Linked DNA regions of Homo sapiens. The protein of the gene in region 4 purifies or fractionates together with the protein of the main gene of each other region. This does not show direct contact. Each region holds a gene or a part of one and is shown on either strand. Other genes may lie near its edges.

Region 1 (3,296 bases), on a different chromosome or scaffold from region 4:
GACCTCCCTCTAACACCCGGGTTTGTGTGGGCTGCAGAAAGCTGCTGGTCTAATCCTAGATGCAGACATTGACCAGGCTGTGCCCTGGGTTTGGGTTTTGTAGGGTCAGAAATATGTTTAAGAGTTTTTTCCGTTCATAAAGAGCTATCTGGCTGTCATCCCAGCCTTCACTGTGGAACCCTGGAGGGCTGCGTGGAACTTGCTGGACTCTGCTCCCGCAGGGCTGAGTCCTGAAGCCCTCAGGAGCCCATGAGGAGGCCAGTTGCTTTAAGCTGCTTAGGGGTTACTGGGAAGCTGCCGTGAGCTTTCACTGCTTCATGTTGTTGAGTGTGACGGTGGGTTTTTCCCTGTCCTTTGGCAAACCGCTGTATCATACACCTCATTTGCCATCAGAGCATGAGGGTGTATAGTTCTTTTTTTCCCCATGAAAACAACACAGAACAAAGCCTCACTTTTAAAAATGCCATGATATTTTGCCGCTGTTATGAAAATCTGTCAGCGCCGTATCTAATCTTCTGGTGCATCGAATATCAAAACAAGTACTATTGAAGGGATTGTACTTCTGTTAATACAAAAATGTCAGCTTCACAGTCTCAGAACCAGCTGCTATCAGCCTCTTTCCAAATGGGAAAGAAAAATAATAAAGTTTCTTTTCCCTCTCTGCTGTTACTGTTCTTCAGGCCTGACCTTCATAAGAAGACCCAGAGTAAACACAGCCTCGCTGAAATCCTACGTTCGGAATACTCAAGCGGCATGGAGGCCGACATCGCCAAGGTCAAAAAGCAAAACGCACCTGGAGAGCCTGGTGGCCGGCCCCTGCAGCACAGTCTGCAGCCGACACCCTGCTTTGGCCGTGGGAAAACATTAAAATGGAGAAAAACCCAAAAAGGTGTACAGCGGGACAGCAAGACTTCCCAGAAAGTTTAAAATCTCTCTGGGTCTTCGAGTGGAACCTGGAAGCCCCGGGTGGCAGTGGATTGATGTCCAGTTCTTGTCAGAGGAGGCTTGTGAAAAATAACTGCGCCTTTGCCTGAATACCACGTCCCCAAGAATCAGAGGGGCCACAGCCCTTCTCCTCCATGGGAGGCCCTGGAGCCTGATAGAAATCAGTGGTGTGGGGCACTGTAGAGACTAGCCAGCTCCCGACGGAAGGGGTCTGTGTCTTGTATTGATCCCATCAGTGCCCGGCACTCCCTTCACCCAGGTGCTGACGTGCCGGGGTTGAGCTGGCACCCCGGGATGTGATGTAAGAACGCCCTGCGCGTCAGCCTGGAACGGGCTTGATTGCTGCCCTTAACTGTGTTCTGAAGTTTCACAGCTTGGCTTCAGCCTATCAGCGCATACATTGGCATGAATTTTGTGAATTAGGGTGTTAAAAACTGGAATTGAATTTGTACAAAAAGAGAATATATTTATCACTAATTATTTTCTTAATGTAGGAATGTACCGTTAAAAAGGACCAAAAGTTTTTGGTCTGGGTCAAAAAATACGAATGTGTTCTCAGGCTCGTGGTCCCTCTTATTTTCTTCTGGAAACACGAGGTTGCATTTACATGCATTGCTCCCTCTTTCATGTCCACTGAAAACTCACTCTCTCAGGGCTAATTGATTTACTGTTGGCTTTTTATTATTTGCCTTTGAAGTCAAAAGGCACCAGTATCCCAAGCTTTTTTTCCCTATCGAATCCTGTCTTGTCTTCAAGAAAGGTCTGGGGGTCTTTGTATTGTGACCCAGGCCACAGCTGCCCGCCCCCCGCCCCCGACCCACCCCGCCCTGCCCCTGCATTGTGTTTTCTGGGAGGTTTGAAAGAGGCCCCCTGGAGCATATTGATTTCCCAATAAATGTAAGATTTGGGCACTTGCAGAGGGGTCCAGAAGAGAAAGGGTTGGAGGCCTCCACACCTGTGGGCACCGCTCCTGTCCTCTCCACTGTGTCTTGCCTTCTCAGTTTCCTTCTCCTCTGCAGTGACTGTGCCGCCCTCTGTGGTCTCCCCAGGACCAGTGTTGAGGCACCACTTCAGTAGATCCCCCCAGATCCTTGGAAGGTCTGAGTGGCCACGAGAGGGTGGTGAGAGTTGGCAAGGTGGGCCTTCCTGCAGGGACCACGGGGGGTCAGCATCCTTGCCTCCGTTCTAGACACAGGTGAATGTCAGTGGGCACCCACACTGGCGGAGACTCCAGTGTGAGGGCAAGGAGGAGCCTAGTGAGACTGGATCCTCTGCAGGTGGAAAAATAGGACCTTCTCAGAGTTGGCTGTCACATACAAATTAACAGGGACTGTGGGTGACGTTTCTAACAATAATAATTAAAAAACAACAACCCTGCAGCACATGTCAGCCTGGCGTTGGGCAAGTCTGCCACCTTTCTTTTATTTCGATGTGTAATGGTTCACATGATTTGGATGAGAAAAGGAGGGATCAAACTTTATAGACAAAACCCAGCTGTGTGAAAAACAGGATTAATGCCAGTGATTGGGGATGATCAAAGAGAAACCTTACTTTTTCTCCCCCAGTACTCATTCCACTAAAGGGCGAATTGGCAGAGTTCGGCATCCCTGGGGGGAAAGAGAAGTGCTAGAATCATGCAACGTGTGAGTGACGATAATTCCAAGATCAAAACTTACACACTTAATCTGCTAACTCTTATGGTGAGGGTTTCTTGCCATAGATGCTATGTGGGTCTGTTTCTAAGTAGAATCACTATATTACCCCAGTTAATAAAGAAACATGGATTTAGCAGATTTAAGGTTAATATTGTTTAAATTTAAATAACCTTAAAATAAATCTCTTTCTCTTCTATTATGGCTCTTGACAGATTATACATTTCAGGCACCAATTAGGCAAAGCTTTAGCCTAATTCCACTGTACATATTCTAATTTTTGTGTATGTTTAATCATGCCTCTTTTTAAAATTTCCCAAACTTACTCATGTCTCTATATCATAAGCCTGGTTCCCATATTTAGAGTCACACAGAATTTGGACATTTAATAGAATGTTGCAGCCTAAAAGCGTTTCCCCCGAGTGGGCTTGTAGAATGTTTTTTTGGAAACCAAAACATCCTCATGTTTGCCACAGCCTTAGCAGTTGACGGGCCTCATTCTCACGCACTGAAGGGCAGAGACCCCTTGCTGAGAGATGAAGTCCGTGCTGATGTGCAGACAGCCCCTTGCACTCTAGAGAAGCAACGAACCAACCAAATCTCAGTAAAGGACTTTTTTTTTTTTTTTAACGAAGCCCAGTGGGTTATTTTGATTTTTTTCTTTTCCCCCTGGGGTGAAGGGAGGAGAACTTTAGGGAA
Region 2 (4,552 bases), on a different chromosome or scaffold from region 4:
GTAAGTCTAATGTAAGACAGTACTGCCCAGCTTGTCTTCTTCTGGGGCAGTGCTATCTAACAGAACTTTCTGCAAAGATGGGTATGCTGTATATCCATCCTTTCCAGTATCATAGCCACTTGCCACATGTAGCTATTGAGTTCTTGAAATGTAAATAGTGTGATCAAGAAACTGGATTTTTAATTTTATAGAATTTTAATTAATTTAAATTTAAATAACCGCATGTGGCTAGTGACTACCACATTGGACAGCTAGACAGTGCAGCTTGGGAGTCTTGTTTTGTTTTTTTACTCAACTGCACAATAATTTTGACTTTACCCCCTGACATTTTTATGCTATCTGCTTGATCCAATGTGCTGAACCATTAACTTTTCTTTTTTTAGTGGTTAGTTACATTTTGGAAGTTTTTTGTGATTATGAATAGAAAGTTGGGTTTGTTTGTTTTTTTTTCTACTACTGAAATCAAAATGTTCACTTCTATCATTATTAAAGGAGTTTTGATCATTTGACAATAAGACTGTTACTTTTATGATTAATATAGTGGTGAACTCATGTTTTGAGGGTCTACTTTAGTGGTATAATGTGTTGAAGGAGGTAGATGATGCCGATTTTTGGTGATAATAGATTTGATTCTTTATCCCATTTATACCTAAAATGAGTTCACTTGATCTGATTATTTAAAAGTATCAGGACTGTCCTTAGGTGGAGAGGAGTGATGACCACTTTAATTCTACCAAGGAAGTCACAGTATCATAAAGGACCTTATAATAAAAAAAGTTTGATAGAGGAGGGGAAAATGGGAGATAGTAATAAACCAGCGCTTAAGAAAACAAATATTCACCTAGTGTCTTTTGTGGTTCCTTGGTAGAAAAATTGAATCCAGATTAGGTAAAATTTTAATTTTCTTAAATGTTCAATCATCATATTTTTCTTTGCAGTTACACCTTAAAATGCTTCCTTCAGAGCCAGTACTCCTAGAAGAAATAACAAATTTGTCATCCCAGGTGGAAGAAAACTGGACCCATTTGCAATCACTCTTCAATCAAAGCATGTGTATTTTAAATTATCTCAAAAGTGCTTTGTTGTAAAAATAAATTTGTGACTAAACAAAGACTTTCATATTAAATGGGTTCAATTGAACTCATTTCTTATTTTCCAAGTGTCAATGTGAAAAGAAAATAAATGCTAGCACTACTGACTAGTCAGTATATCTCCACTTTAAATGCTAAATACTTTCTTGAAATAAAATCGCACCTCCCGGCCAGGCATGATGGATAATGCCTGTAATTCCAGCACTTTCAGAGGCCAAAGCGGGAGGATTGCTTGAAGCCAGGAATTTGAGCCCAGCCTGGGCAACATAGCAAGCAAGATCCCATCTCTACAAAAAGTTAAAAAAATAAATTACACCTGCCTTTTGTTTTGAAGACTTAAAGAATCTGCTCAAATGATTTATTTTCTGAGTCTCTTCACATTAACTTTTATATGATTTTTAAAAAATTATTACCTGCTTATATTTTTTGAGTATCTGTTTCATATAAAGAGATGCTGCATGTTCACTGTGAAGTATTGCTGAATTAAATTGAAAATGTCAGATAAAACTGATACATGATGTAGTTATAAAAATGCTGTTATGAAGAAAAAAGGAATGCTTTTTTCCTCGGTGGCCTTTGATAAAAATATGAATGATTGACTCTCAGAGTTGGAGGATAAACTAATCATCTTCTAGCACAGCCCTGTTGTGTTGCAGGAGAGGAATCAGGCTAAAGTCTGCTGGTATTTCAGTGACAGATTAAAACTTTCTAACAGTGGCCTAGTGCTTTCTCCATTGTAATGTACTGAAAGGAAGTTGTTCATGGATCAGAAATGTGGGAGGCCCTTCCTTGCCCAAGGCAAGTCGCTGTAGATGGTTAAACTGATACCAAGGATAGGTAAGGGAAATTCCAAATTCCATTGGAAGATGGCCTTTTACTGACACTGCAGACATGTAGATAACAATAGTTTAATGTCCTCTGAAAAGGTAAAAATTCCATAAATCCTTGCAAACAATTTTTAGCAATATTGTTTATTGCTACCACAGCCAAGAATGGGTATTTCAAAGCCAGGGTTTTTTTTATTTTGTTTTGTTTTGTTTTTTTTTTTTTTTTTTTGGCTACACTTTTTTGGGGGGGACCTTTTAATTTGGGAAGAAAATGCTGAGTATACTTTTCTTTCACAACCATTGCAAACCCAGGTAGCCCTGGAGTTTTCTTTTTTTCTCATCATCATTGTTTTGTTTTTTTTATGGTTCAAGACTTTTGCAATACATGAATTAAAAATAAGCAGTTCTTTAAAGCATAGCGCTCTAAAAACTATTCTTAGTTTATACCCTCAAAAGTTGGGTCTTTCATGAAACACAGTGGTTTGAATATGAACACCAGTAGCATTCTCGTTCGTTGTTAGGGTAAGAGAGTTTTGTAGAATGATCTCCAAAAGAAGCAGTCCTCAAAAGGCATTTACCAGTGATATCTTTTAATATTCATGTTTTTATTTAATGATGTAAGATAGAATTAATAAACTACTAAGGAAATAAGCCAATGTGGTTATTGTACTCAATTTCGTTTTTCTTTTAGAAATGTGTATTGACTTATTAAAGCCACTGACAGAAATGTTAATCATGACTTAAGTTCTAATTTAAAAAACTATTTTCCTCTTTCCTAAATACTATATTCTAAATTGGAATATGGCAAAATCCCAATATATAATTCTATACCTAGTAAAGATTGTAAATAACTAAAACAAAATGATAAGAGCTGTGAACTGAAATTGTATTGCTTACAGAAATCATGAACCGAATTTTCTTCTCTTTTTAAAGTGAGCATAAAGACTTAAGTGTATTGTTACCAGAGATATATTTAGATAGAATACATCATTTTGGCAGGTAATCTTCTAGAACCTTTCATGTACTGTTTCCATCAAGGGAGGGAAAGAAATAGAAAATATAATTTTATCTATATTTTCCTTAAAATATATCAATCTGTGCACACTCTTTCAGTTTTTTAATTACTCATGTAATATATGACTACATTTTGCTTGTGTGCTTTTTGAAAACCATCTTCAGTCCCAATATCCTCTGTAGAAGTAATAGTTTTAACTCTCCTAGATCTTCTTTTAGAGTGTTTTTATGAGTGTTTAATGTAGGAATGTGTATATATTATCTACAGCCACAGGAAATGTATAGTTACGATTTTTACATACGTGTATGTATATTATTGTACAACTTGCTATTTCTACTTGGGAGTTTTTTATTTTGGTACATTCACATTTACCTAATCTCTTGTGCACTGTCCAACAGTACTTTGCCTATAATAGACACTTAAGGAAGTTTTCCTTCTTTTTATTCCTTTATAATTACAAACAATGCTGAAAGGAACATCATCCTACATGAGCCCTTTTTGTACATATAAGGCTCTCTCTGTGGTATATGCTTAGGATTTGAATTTCAGGCCAGAGTATAACCATTTTTAATTTGAAGAGATACTTCCATTTGGGTTCCAGAATGGCTGTATCAAGTTACAGTTCCCCTGAGCAAGATATGAGCATCTGCTTCCCCATGTAATTAATGACACTTGCTATTGGATTTTTGTAATTTAATTACTCTGAAAAAATTATTTTGGTTTTAAATCAGAAATTTCTCACTAGTGAAGATGGACATATTTTTGTATGTTTATTTTAGAACATATAAACATTTGTTAATTTTCTTTTTCCTCTCATTTTTCTATTGAATGATTTGTCCTTTTATCTCATGGATTTGTTAGGAGTTCTCTTGTATTTTCTGTATTTTATGTCTGTTGCCAATGTTTTCTCCTACTTAGCCATTTGGCTTTAATTTTACATGGTGTCTGTTTAAATAAATGTTTTATATTTGTATACAATCAAATTGATTAATTTTCATGACTTATTTCAGGATATAAAGCAAATTATTTTCTAAGACATTTACAGTGTATGTTTTCCTATGTTTACATGTGCTCATTTCACGTCATGTATTTTCCTCTACGACATGTTTCTGTGTGAGTAGTTAACATGTAGATCTTTAGAATTGATTTTTCTGAAGAGTGAAACAGCGCTGCTTCCAATATCTGTTCAAAATTCATTTATTGAAAAGTCCACTCATATGTCTGATTTGAAATGCTGTTTCATTATGTGTTAAATTCTTTCACTGAGCTCTTCCATATTCCTAGTAAATGATGCATTACTTTGGTATGTTCTCAGATTTGGGTAAAGCCTTCCTCATGTTCTATAAAAATTGGTTAACTGCTGGTGAGCACATCTCTTGAAGTTTTGATATGGGTTGCACAACATTTATAGGACTGATTTGGAGAGACCGACAATACCGAGTGCAGTCCTCCCTTGGTATCTAGTTCCAGGACCCCTGTGGATACCAAAATCCAAGCAATGCCCTGCAGATCATGGGACCTATGCATATGAAAAGTCGGTCCTTGTATTTGAGGGTTTTGCATCCCTCAAATACCATATGTTTTATTTGTGTTTGGTTGAAAAAAGTTTGCATATAAGT
Region 3 (5,102 bases), on a different chromosome or scaffold from region 4:
ATACAGGCTTAATTGTGGTACATTTAAATGTTGTCTCCACCGCAATGTGAGGACGGATTATACGGTTGCTTTTTTTTTTTTTAGATTTTTGTTTGTTTGTTTTTTGTTTTGAGATGGAGTCTCACTCTGTCTCCCAGGCTGGAGGGCAGTGGCGCGATCTCGGCCCACTGCAACCTCTGCCTTCTGGGTTCAACTGATTCTCCTGCCTCAGCCTCCCGAGTAGCTGGGATTTCAGGCACGTGCCACCACACCCGGCTAATTTTTGTAGTTTTAGTAGAGACCAGGTCTCACCATGTTGGCCAGGTTGGTCTCGAACTCCTCACTGTCATGCGTGTCTGTATAGAAAACCACCTAAACAGGCTTTGTGTAAGCAATAACGCCATTTATTCACTTGGGTGCAAGTGGGCTGAGTCTGAAAAGAGAGTCAGCGAAGGGAGATAAGAGAGGGGCAGCTTTATAGGACTTGGGTAGGTGGTGGAAAGTTACAGTCGAAGGTGGTCATCTGTTGTCAGCAGGGGAGGGGGTCACCAGGTGCATGGTGGGAGACCATGAGACCCATTGTCCAGAAGAAGAATGTCATAAGGTCGATTGATCAGTTAGGGTAGGGCAGGAACAAGTCCTAATGGTGGAATGTCTTAAGGTTGGTTAATCAGTTAAGGGAGAAACTGGCTGTTTCACTTCTTTTGTGTTTTTTTGGCTGCTCCAGACTTCTTGGCTGCTGCAGGCCATCTGGATGTATATGTGCAGTTCACAGGGGTCACAATGGCTTAGCTCCGGCTCAGAGGCCTGACACTGACCTCAGATGATCCACCTGCCTCGGCCTCCCAAAATGCTGGGATTACAGGCGTGAGCCACTGTGCCTGCCTGGGATCATATGTTACACGCATGTTTGTTCAATAAGCATGGAGTGCAGCCACCCACATGAATATTCATAGCTCCTCCTATAGCCTGTTGAATATGTATGTTTAGCCAACCCCTTCAGCATAAAGCTCCTGCCCCAACCCCTCCTGCTTCTAAATGTCTGTCTCTGGTGTTTCCCAGAGGCTGCTCTTCCCAGGCTGCGGGATGGCTACCTTGCTGCCTGTCACCCTTAACAAGAAATAAAATCTCCTTTCCAAATTTATACATTGTGGCCAGGCGCGGTGGCTCACACCTGTAATCCCGGCACTTTGGTACGCCAAGGCGGGCGGATCTCCTCAGATCGGGAGTTCGAGATCAGCTGACCAACATGGAGAAACCCTGTCTCTACTAAAAATACAAAAATTAGCCAGGCATAGTGGTGGGCGGCTGTAAGCCTGACCAACATGGAGAAACACTGTCTCTACTAAGAATACAAAAATTAGCCTAGGCGTAGGGGTGGGTGCCTGTAATCGCAGTTACATGGGAGGCTGAGGCAGGAGAATCTTTTGAACCTGGGAGGCAAAGGTTGCGGTGAGCTGAGATTACGCCACTGTACTCCAGCCTGGGTAACAGAGCAAGTCTCCGTCTCAAAACAAACAAACAAACAAAAAAACACAAAAAAACAAAAGCAAACAAAAAAACCAAATGCATCCCTTGTGTAATTTTTAGGTCACCGCGCCATGGGAACACGCTACCAGGGGAAGGGAGCTGTGAGACGCGCAGGGAGGCTCCAGACAGGCTGGCCTGGGACACCAGCCACTGCTCTTCCATGACATGGGGACAAGAGGAGGCGAGAGCTCAGCCCACCAGGGAGGAACTCCGGGCAGGAGATGGGGAAGAAGGAGAAGCAGGAAGGAAAGAGCTCAGTGTGGGGGCGCGCATGGCATCCCGGTGGGACATCTGAGGCCCACACCCACCTGCTGTCCCTCCCTCCCACGGTGGCCTCCGAGGGTGAAGGCCTGGGGAGAGGCAGACACCTGGCCCTTTACTCTCCCTCCCTGTCCCCATGGCCGCTGGGTGGGGGCCGTCTCTGGGATGATCCCCGAGGGCAGGATCCGGGAGTCCCTGCGGAGGCATCAGCCTGTCTGTCTTGATGGTGGAGAGGAGGCTCCAGCTGGGCGGGACCACCAGGGGAGGGGCTTGTGCTCTGCTGGCTCAGCCTGGTGTGGACCCACCTCGCGGGCGCTGGCTGCAATGACTTTCTCTTTCCCTTTGCAATTGCCTTGGGTCCTGCCGCACAGAGCGGCCTGTCTTTATCAGAGGTCCCTCTGCCAGGGGGAGGGCCCCAGAGAAAACCAGAAAGAGGGTGAGAGACTGAGGAAGATAAAGCGTCCCAGGGCCTCCTACACCAGCGCCTGAGCAGGAAGGGGGAGGGGCCATGACTACGAGGCCCTGGGAGGTCACTTTAGGGAGGGCTGTCCTGAAACCTGGAGCCTGGAGCAGAAAGTGAAACCCTGGTGCTCCAGACAAAGATCTTAGTCGGGACTAGCCGGCCAAGGATGAAGCCTCACTTCAGGTACCGCTGCCCGCTCTACCCGCTGGGCCCCTCTGCTGCCCCTTCCTGCCTGGTGGCTCTGCTGGGCGTCAGCCCTGGCCTCCCCCTGCCCCAGCCCCAGCCCTGGGCTCCCTCCCCTCTGGCTCCCCTGCCCCCGCCACTCCCAGCCAGGCTCTTTTTCCTGCTCTGTGGTTGCCCCACTGCTGCTTCTGAATAGGCCGCTTCCCCACCTGCCCCAGCCCAGGTGCCCTGCTGAGACTCTCCCCCGCCACCGAAAGTCATGGCAGGGCTGGTGCTCCCGGCCCTGGGAGGGTGCTCCCTCTGTGTTCTTTCCGCCATTCCTGAACTCTGGAACTGGGAGAATTGAACCAAAGGATGATTAGAGCAATGTGGAATTTTGTTCACAGTGCTTTGATGGATTTTCTGTAACATTTACTTTGCTTAAATAGCAAGTCTTAGGAGAGGGTGTGGGGAGGGAATGGTCTCTGAAGCACAAGATAAATCGTATCTTCCAAGGATGTCTCCACTGTGGGCAGAGGAGGATGCAGATGACCCCAAACACACGCTCCTCCTCCACTATCAGCATTCACTGTTTATAAATGACACGAGTAACATGGAATATAGTGGCCGGGTGCGGTGGCTCACACCTGTCATCCCAGCACTTTGGTAGGCTGAGGTGGGTGGATTGCCTGAGGTCGGGAGTTCGAGACCATCCTGATCAACATGGATAAACCCTGTCTCTACTAAAAATACAAAATTAGCCGGGTGTGGTGGCGGGCGCCTATAATCCAGCTACTCCACAGGCTGAGACAGGAGAATCGCTTGAACCCAGGAGGCGGAGGTTGCAGTGAGCCGAGATCGCCCCATCGCACTCCAGCCTGGGCAACAAGAGCCAAATTTCGTCTCAAAAGAAAAAAAAACAAAAACAAAAAACATGGAATATATGGGAAAAAAACTCAATGATCAGGAGAAATGCTATTATTTTAAAATTTAGTAAGAAGAGAGTCTGGTCCCCAATGGCTCCCTCCTGCAAGGCTGGTGACACAGAGACTGGACAGGGCTGGTCTGGTAAGAGGCCCCAGCCCCATCCGTCCCCAGCTCTGTGGCCTGGGCAGGTTACCCCATCTCTCTGCGCCTCTGGCACCTCCTCTGTAAGATGGGAATGGCCCGTGCGGGCCTAGGGCAGCCTCACATGAGCTCACATCCGCGCAGCACTTAGAAGAGTGGCCTGGGCCTCAGAATTCGGTTCTACCATGATTTAACAATAGTAATATACAGAGGTGAAATGTCAGAAGGAACTGGCTGAAAGGTTAAAATCTATTATTTTGGGGTGAATAGTTTTATTCTCTCTCTCTTTTTTTTTTTTTTTTTTGAGATGGAGTTTCGCTCTTGTAGCCCAGGCTGGAGTGCAGTGGCACGATCTCGGCTCACTACAACCTCCGCCTCCCAGGTTCAAGCGATTCTCCTGCCTCAGCCTCCACAGTGGCTGGGATTACAGGCACCCACTACCACGCTTGGCTAATTTTTATATTTTTAGTAGAGACTGGGTTTCACCATGTTGGTGAGACTGGTCTCAAACTCCTGACCTCAAGTGATGGGCCTACCTCGGCCTCCCAAAGTGCTGGGATTACAGGCATGAGCCATAATGTCCAGCCAAGAACTTTGTTCTCTTTTGCATTTTACTAATGCGTTGGAGAATGGGTGGGAGAAATACTGGGAAGGTGGGGAATGTACTCCTGGAACGACCAGAGCTGGACCCTGAGCTGGAAGAGGTCAGCCTGCCCCTGCTGCCCATGCCAGCATCCCCTTTTCTTGCTCTCTCCCCGGTCTTCCTGCCTGGGAAGGAAGCAAAAATTCTCAGGGCTGTGGAGGGGTTGGGGAGGCCCAGAGCCATGCAGGGGGCTGTGTTTAGTGGACATCAGCCCTGAGGGCTCCCGGGAGCGCTCTCTACATTGGCTGGTTTCTCTCTTGTGTCTTCAGAAACACAGTGGAGCGAATGTATCGAGACACATTCTCCTACAACTTTTATAATAGACCCATCCTTTCTCGTCGGAATACCGTCTGGCTGTGCTACGAAGTGAAAACAAAGGGTCCCTCAAGGCCCCGTTTGGACGCAAAGATCTTTCGAGGCCAGGTACCACCCGGACTTCAATCACTTTGCAGGCAGGAGCTAAGCCAGCTGGGAAAGCAAACCACGCACTGATAAGTGAAGTGCCCGGCGGCGGGCTATCCAGTGTGTCCTTCTCTCCCACACTTTCCAAGTCCGTGGCCCTGACCTTCCTGCTGGACCGTCCTGGGATCGGATCGTGGAGGGGGTTTGCCTTTGCACAAAAGGCCTTGTGTTTTTTTTTTTTTTTTTTTGAGACAGAGTTTCACTCTTGTTGCTCAGGCTGGAGTGCAATGACGCGATCTCGGCTCACAGCAACCTCTGCCTCCTGGGTTCAAGCGATGCTGTCGCCTAAGACTCCCGAGTAGCTGGGATTACAGGTGCCCACCACCACGCCCAGCTAATTTTTTTTTTTTTTGTATTTTTAGTAGAGACAGGATTTTACCATATTCACCAGGCTGGTCTCGAACTTCTGACCTCAGGTGATCCACCTGCCTCGGCCTCCCAAAGTGTTGGGATTACAGGTGTGAGCCACAGCGCCGGCCTAATTTTAATATTTAATTAATCCAATGTGGCTAACATATTACTTCAACATTAATT
Region 4 (5,604 bases):
TCATTAATAGGAAGACAAATGTAATCTAGGCTGGATTAGATATTTTCTTATGATTTTAAAAGAAATTAAGACCTTCCTATGGGCCCCTAAAGGTTTCATGGGCCCCATGCTCTGTGCCTACTGGGTAAGTGGGCTCTGGTCACTGCTGTGATCTGGCAAAATGGGCCAGTGTTCTTGACCTCACAGGACAGGGGTGAAAGAGACCACTATCTGCAAGGAATTTTTTTTTATATTAAATTGTGTTTCAAAAATGTTGATGGTAATATGAAGTTTCTACACCCAGGGAAACAATTCAAAGGAAGAGAAAGAAAAAATAATTAATAACTTCTACCCCCTTCTCATTCCCACTCCATGCCCTCCAGACACCAACCCAGCCTCATTCCACAGCCTTCCCCAGGCTGGAAGATGCTGTACAGATGTGTCCACATCCACATGTTTTGGTTTGTTTTTTCACAAAGGGGCTAAAGGTATGCATAAAACTGGGTAACTTGCTTTTCTCACTTAGTGAAACCACAGACATGTCAACAGATGCAGAACTAACTCTGCTTCGCAGAGGCGACCTGATACTTCATACTATGGAGACCCTACCCTCGATTTGATTCCTTTAGTAATGTTTATTAATTTTGTTTTCAGGGTTTTTTTTTGCCTCTAGAAACAATGCTGCCATAAATATCTTTTTTTCCTATATGTAACTTTTACACGGAGCTTTTATTGGTGTGGGCAGATTCCCAGGAACAGGGTTGCTGGGTTATGGGATTTGTGTATTGCCAGCTCACTTTCCAGAAAAATGTTGAGCGACTCACATTCCCTCACCAGTGTGTGAGAGGGCCTGTTCCTTTCAATCCTGGCCAGCACTAGAAGTTAGCTCATCTGTTCATTCAGCTTGATGTCTAAGTGCCTCCTGTGTGTTAGACGTTGTCCTAGATGTCGGAAATACAATCTGAAAGTGATCATCCCTGCTCCCTGGGGGCTTCTGTTCTCATGGAGGGAAGACAGATGACAAACTTGAAAACAACTATTTTAAAAAAGACAGTTGTCAATAGTGGTTTGTACTGCAAGAAAATAGAGGGGGAGAGAGTTGCTGCTTGAGGTCAGGTGATTGGGGGTAGAGGACTTCTCCAAGGAGGTGACGTTGGAGCTGACCAGGAAGCAGGGGTAGTCATGGGAAGAGCATTCCCTCCAGAGGGAACAGCAGATGCAGAGGCCAGGAGGCCTGGGGCCAAGCATGGGAGAGGGGAGTAGAGGAGATGGAAGGGGAGAGGCCATCAGGGGCACATCATAAGGGCTATGTGGGCAGCAGTGAAGACTTTGAGTGATTTCTAATGGTGGGGGAAGCCAACGAAGAGTTTTGAAGAGTTTTAGCCCAGAGGACATTTTCACTGAGTGATTACAGTTGGCCAGGTGTGGTGCCCGGGTACAGGCATTAAGTGGTAGGAACCCCCAGCCCACACCTTTGTGATCCTTTTGTTCTACAACAGGGCTTCTCAACCTCCACACTACTGACCTTTGGGCCTGATCATTCTTTGTTGTGGGGCCTGTCGCGTGCATCGTACAGTGTGTAGCAGCATCCCCAGTCTCTACCAACTAAACGCCCATAGCACTCCCCTGCCAAATTATGACAGTTTGGCAAATGTCTCTAGACGTTGACAAATGTCTCCGGGGGCAGAATTGTTCCCGATTGAGTTCCAAAGGCTTCTGCCAACTTGGCCTTATATATATGCCCCCCTACAATTAAAATTACTTTTCACTTGTGGAAGTTGGGGCCATTTGGCCTAAGAAAGGCTCTTCTTTGTCTTAGTGGTTCTTACGCTTTAAGACGTGTCAGAATCACCTGGGAAACTTGCTTAGAAATACCGATTCAGGGGCCCTACCCAGGTAGTTTGATTCAGAGGATCTGAGGTGGGGGGCAGGAATATATATTCTGAGTGAGATTTTAATAAGCATCCCCAGTGATTCTGGTACTTTGAGAATTGGTGCACCAGCTACAAGAGCATTGTGTTGGAGAGGATTGAGGCTTTTCTGGGTGATCTTGAAGGGTTGGAGATGTAGAGAGGCATGTTTCTGTTTATAGCAGAAGAAAAACTCATTTCCAGTCAGAGGTGTTGGTGGCACGGGTAGTGAGCCCCCATCACGGGAGAAGCCAGGACTGAGCCAGCATGTCTCAGACTCCAAGAATTTGTCCTCATCTGTGTCATGGATCCTATTTTTTTACTTTGCCATTTACTTGATTTGGCTCACTGATTTTTTTTTTGTTTTTAATTTAAATCAACTTAGTTTAAAAGGGTATTCTGTGTGACTGCTGTAAAAGAAGCTGAGTTTTGCTGTAAGAAGGGAAACAAACTTTAAAACAAATTGAAGTAAAGCCAGGTAGTTCTAATGAGATATTATGGTCACCCTAACTTTGGGGCCTGAACCCTGCTTTTCTTTTTAATTTTAATTTTTAATTTTTCTGGGTGTGTAGTGGGTTTATATATTTATGGAGTACATGAGATATTTTGATACGGGCATACAATGTGTAATAATCACATCAGGATAAATGGGGTATCTGTCACCTCAAGGATTTATCCTTTGTGTTACAAACAATCTGATTACATTTTTAGTGTTTTGTTTTTTTTTTTTTTTGAGATGGAGTCTCGCTCTGTCACCCAGGCTGGAGTGCAGTGTTGCCATCTCAGCTCACTGCAAGCTCCGCCTCCTGGGTTCATGCCATTCTCCTTCCTCAGCCTCCCGAGTAGCTGGGATTACAGGCACCTGCCACCACACCCGGCTAATTTTTTGTATTTTTGGTAGAGACGGGGTTTCACCGTGGTCTTGATCTCCTGACCTCGTGATCCGCCCGCCTCGGCCTCCCAAAGTGCTGGGATTACAGGCATGAGCCACTGCGCCCGGCCAGTTATTTTTAAATGTATCATTAAATTATTATTGATCATAGTCACCCTGTTGTGCTGTCAAATAGTAGGTCTTATTCATTCTTTGTGTGTGTGTTTTTTTGTTTTTTTGGGGTTTGTTTTTTTTTTTTTTTTTTGAGATGGAGTCTCGCTCTGTTGCCAGGCTGGAGTGCAGTGGTGCAATCTTGGCTCACTGCAACCCTCTGTATTTTTTTTTTTTTTTTTTTTTTTGAGACGGAGTCTCGCTCTGTCGCCCAGGTCGGACTGCGGACTGCAGTGGCGCAATCTCGGCTCACTGCAAGCTCCGCTTCCCGGGTTCACGCCATTCTCCTGCCTCAGCCTCCCGAGTAGCTGGGACTACAGGCGCCCGCCACCGCGCCCGGCTAATTTTTTGTATTTTTAGTAGAGACGGGGTTTCACCTTGTTAGCCAGGATGGTCTCGATCTCCTGACCTCATGATCCACCCGCCTCGGCCTCCCAAAGTGCTGGGATTACAGGCGTGAGCCACCGCGCCCGGCCCTCTGTATTTTTTTAATACCAATTAGCCATCCCCACATTCCCCCCACCCTTCCACTACCCTTCCCAGCCTCAGGTTTCTTCATCATTCTAGTCTCTATCTCCATGAGTTTGTTTTAATTTTTAGCTCACACAAGTGAGAACTTGCAAAGTTTGTCTTTCTATGCCTGGCTTATTTCACTTAACATAATGACCTCCAGTTTTATCCATGTTGTTGCAAATCACAGGATCTTATTCTCCTGCTTTTCTTTTGTTTCAAGGGGCGAGTGATGGGTTGCAGGGATGTTAAGATATCTCTCCACTTGAGACTTTATCCTGAGCTTGTCAGGAGAACTGGAGGAGAATTGAATCAAGATGCATTTCTCTAGGCGAATCTGGCTCTGAGAGCCCCTGGGTGGAAGTTCCTTACACTCATATCTGCTAGTTGAACCTCATGGTAACCCCATGAAGTCTGGGGGAAGTGCCCAAAGAGGCCACAGGTGGTTCTGGGGCATCTCAGGGGGCCTCAGTCCAGCACTCACACTCAAGGAGGGATCCGGGCAGGGCCATTGGGAGAAGGCAGGGTGTCCGGTGGCCCTCAGCAGCCTGCGGGAATGTGTGTGAGTGTATGTGTGTTAACCATATCTATAGGAGTGTACATGGGAGTGCATCTGTGAGGCATTGTAGCCTGGAGGCTAAGCTGTGGACCCAGACATACTCTGCCTGACTCCAGTCCCAGCTCTGTAATCTTGAGCAAGTGGTTTAATCTCCTCGGGCCTCAGCCTCCTCATCTGTGAAATGGGTAGGTAGAAGTAGTACCTACCTTCCAGGATGGTTGGAAGATCAAGTGATATACATTCAAGTTCCCTACATGCAGTAAGCCCTCTAAATACTCACTGTTGATGTATGTGTATGTGTGTCTATCTGTCTGTCTCTGCTTGTCTCTCAGTGGGTGTGTGTCTGTCCTGTCTACATTTGTGAGGCCAGCCTAGGCCTGGTCTCTCAGCATGCCTCCCTCTTTCTTCTCCCTACAGCACTGTTGGTCACCGCAGGCCTGTCTTCCTATTCACCGTGGGCAGCAGAGGGATGGCTGCTCAGCTGCTGACTGATGAGGCACTGGTGAGTCATGTTGCCCTGTCACTCTCCTTTCCAAAGGCTGGATCCTGCCTTGGGTGAGCCTCTGCTGCTCGAACCCTCTCCAAGGCCCCCAGTCCCATCTTCTGGGGCTGTGTCTGCCCTGATGAAGAGGGCTGTGCTTATAGATGATGCTGACCCTGGCTGTGGGGTCAGTTGTAGGGGACAGGGAAGCTTTGGAATGGCCAAACTAGCTCTCTGGACTCTTAGGAGACACAGGTGGGCACCTGTGGGAAGTGGTGGTTTAGACATGTGACATTGAGTGAAAACTTGCGCAGGACCATGCTGGATGTGTGACCTTTAAAATGGGCAAACACACTAAATGCTTCTTGTGAATGTGAATGCCCACATGTGTGATGAAAGTACAAAAGCTTATGGGAATGAGGCCCACAAATTCACCCATGATTTTACCCCAAAAGATAATCACTCTGGAATGTTTGAGTCTGGCTAAGCAATTTTAATGTTAAAGATTGCTTTTTCATCAGAGATTTCATCCTGAGCATTTCTCCACATCATTAAAAACTCCTTTGTAACGTCCATCTTAATGACCCCATAAAAGTGTTGTTCAGTGGCCATACCCTGGTTTACTTAATGGTTCCTCTGTTGTTGGACCTTTATTGGTTTCCAAGTATTCTTTTTTTGGTTATAAACAGTGTCATGAGGGACACTGGGCACAAATCTTTCTTTGTGTCTTATATGATTTCTTTAGGAGTGATTCCTTGAAGAGGAAGATTGGGTTGGGTATTTTTGAGGTATTTTGATATTATTTCCACATCAGTTACGGCGGTATGTATTCCCACCAGCATGTCTGAGCGGGTCTCTGATGATTTATATGGCTGTTGTCAGGCATTTATTCTGCATGTTGGATATATTTAGATTGGTGCAATATTGCACCATGATAATAAATGATAAATGGATATAAATGACAAATGCTATAAACCATGATGAGCCTGATAGGGGACAAATGGTGCCACGTGATTTATTTCTGAGTAGCATTGTTTGTATTATTAGTGAAGTTCAAGTCTTAGAAAATGTTTACTAGCCATTTCTGTGGGCAGGGAAATGATCCATCTTGTGCTTTAGCAGT

The links.
Region 1: the proteins of ZNF71 (region 4) and DDX31 purify together in Homo sapiens (affinity purification with mass spectrometry; 2 studies listed by BioGRID and IntAct, with this or other methods). This does not show direct contact.
Region 2: the proteins of ZNF71 (region 4) and WDR36 purify together in Homo sapiens (affinity purification with mass spectrometry; 2 studies listed by BioGRID and IntAct, with this or other methods). This does not show direct contact.
Region 3: the proteins of ZNF71 (region 4) and APOBEC3F purify together in Homo sapiens (affinity purification with mass spectrometry; one large-scale study listed by BioGRID and IntAct). This does not show direct contact.

What each region holds. Positions count from the first base shown.
Region 1 is NC_000009.12:132,592,497-132,595,792, reverse strand, and holds the end of DDX31 (ATP-dependent DNA helicase DDX31), read left to right. Parts: exon of another isoform or gene 1-650; intron 651-680; coding exon 681-927; 3' UTR 928-2,796; downstream 2,797-3,296. UniProt on the Homo sapiens protein: May have DNA helicase activity and RNA helicase activity. Probably have ssDNA and RNA dependent ATPase activity. Plays a role in ribosome biogenesis and TP53/p53 regulation through its interaction with NPM1.
Region 2 is NC_000005.10:111,125,796-111,130,347, forward strand, and holds part of WDR36 (WD repeat-containing protein 36), read left to right. Parts: intron 1-938; coding exon 939-1,088; 3' UTR 1,089-4,552. UniProt on the Homo sapiens protein: Part of the small subunit (SSU) processome, first precursor of the small eukaryotic ribosomal subunit.
Region 3 is NC_000022.11:39,038,562-39,043,663, forward strand, and holds the start of APOBEC3F (DNA dC->dU-editing enzyme APOBEC-3F), read left to right. Parts: upstream 1-2,302; 5' UTR 2,303-2,399; coding exon 2,400-2,416; intron 2,417-4,375; coding exon 4,376-4,529; intron 4,530-5,102.
Region 4 is NC_000019.10:56,597,090-56,602,693, forward strand, and holds part of ZNF71 (endothelial zinc finger protein induced by tumor necrosis factor alpha), read left to right. Parts: intron 1-4,417; 5' UTR 4,418-4,469; coding exon 4,470-4,502; intron 4,503-5,604. UniProt on the Homo sapiens protein: May be involved in transcriptional regulation.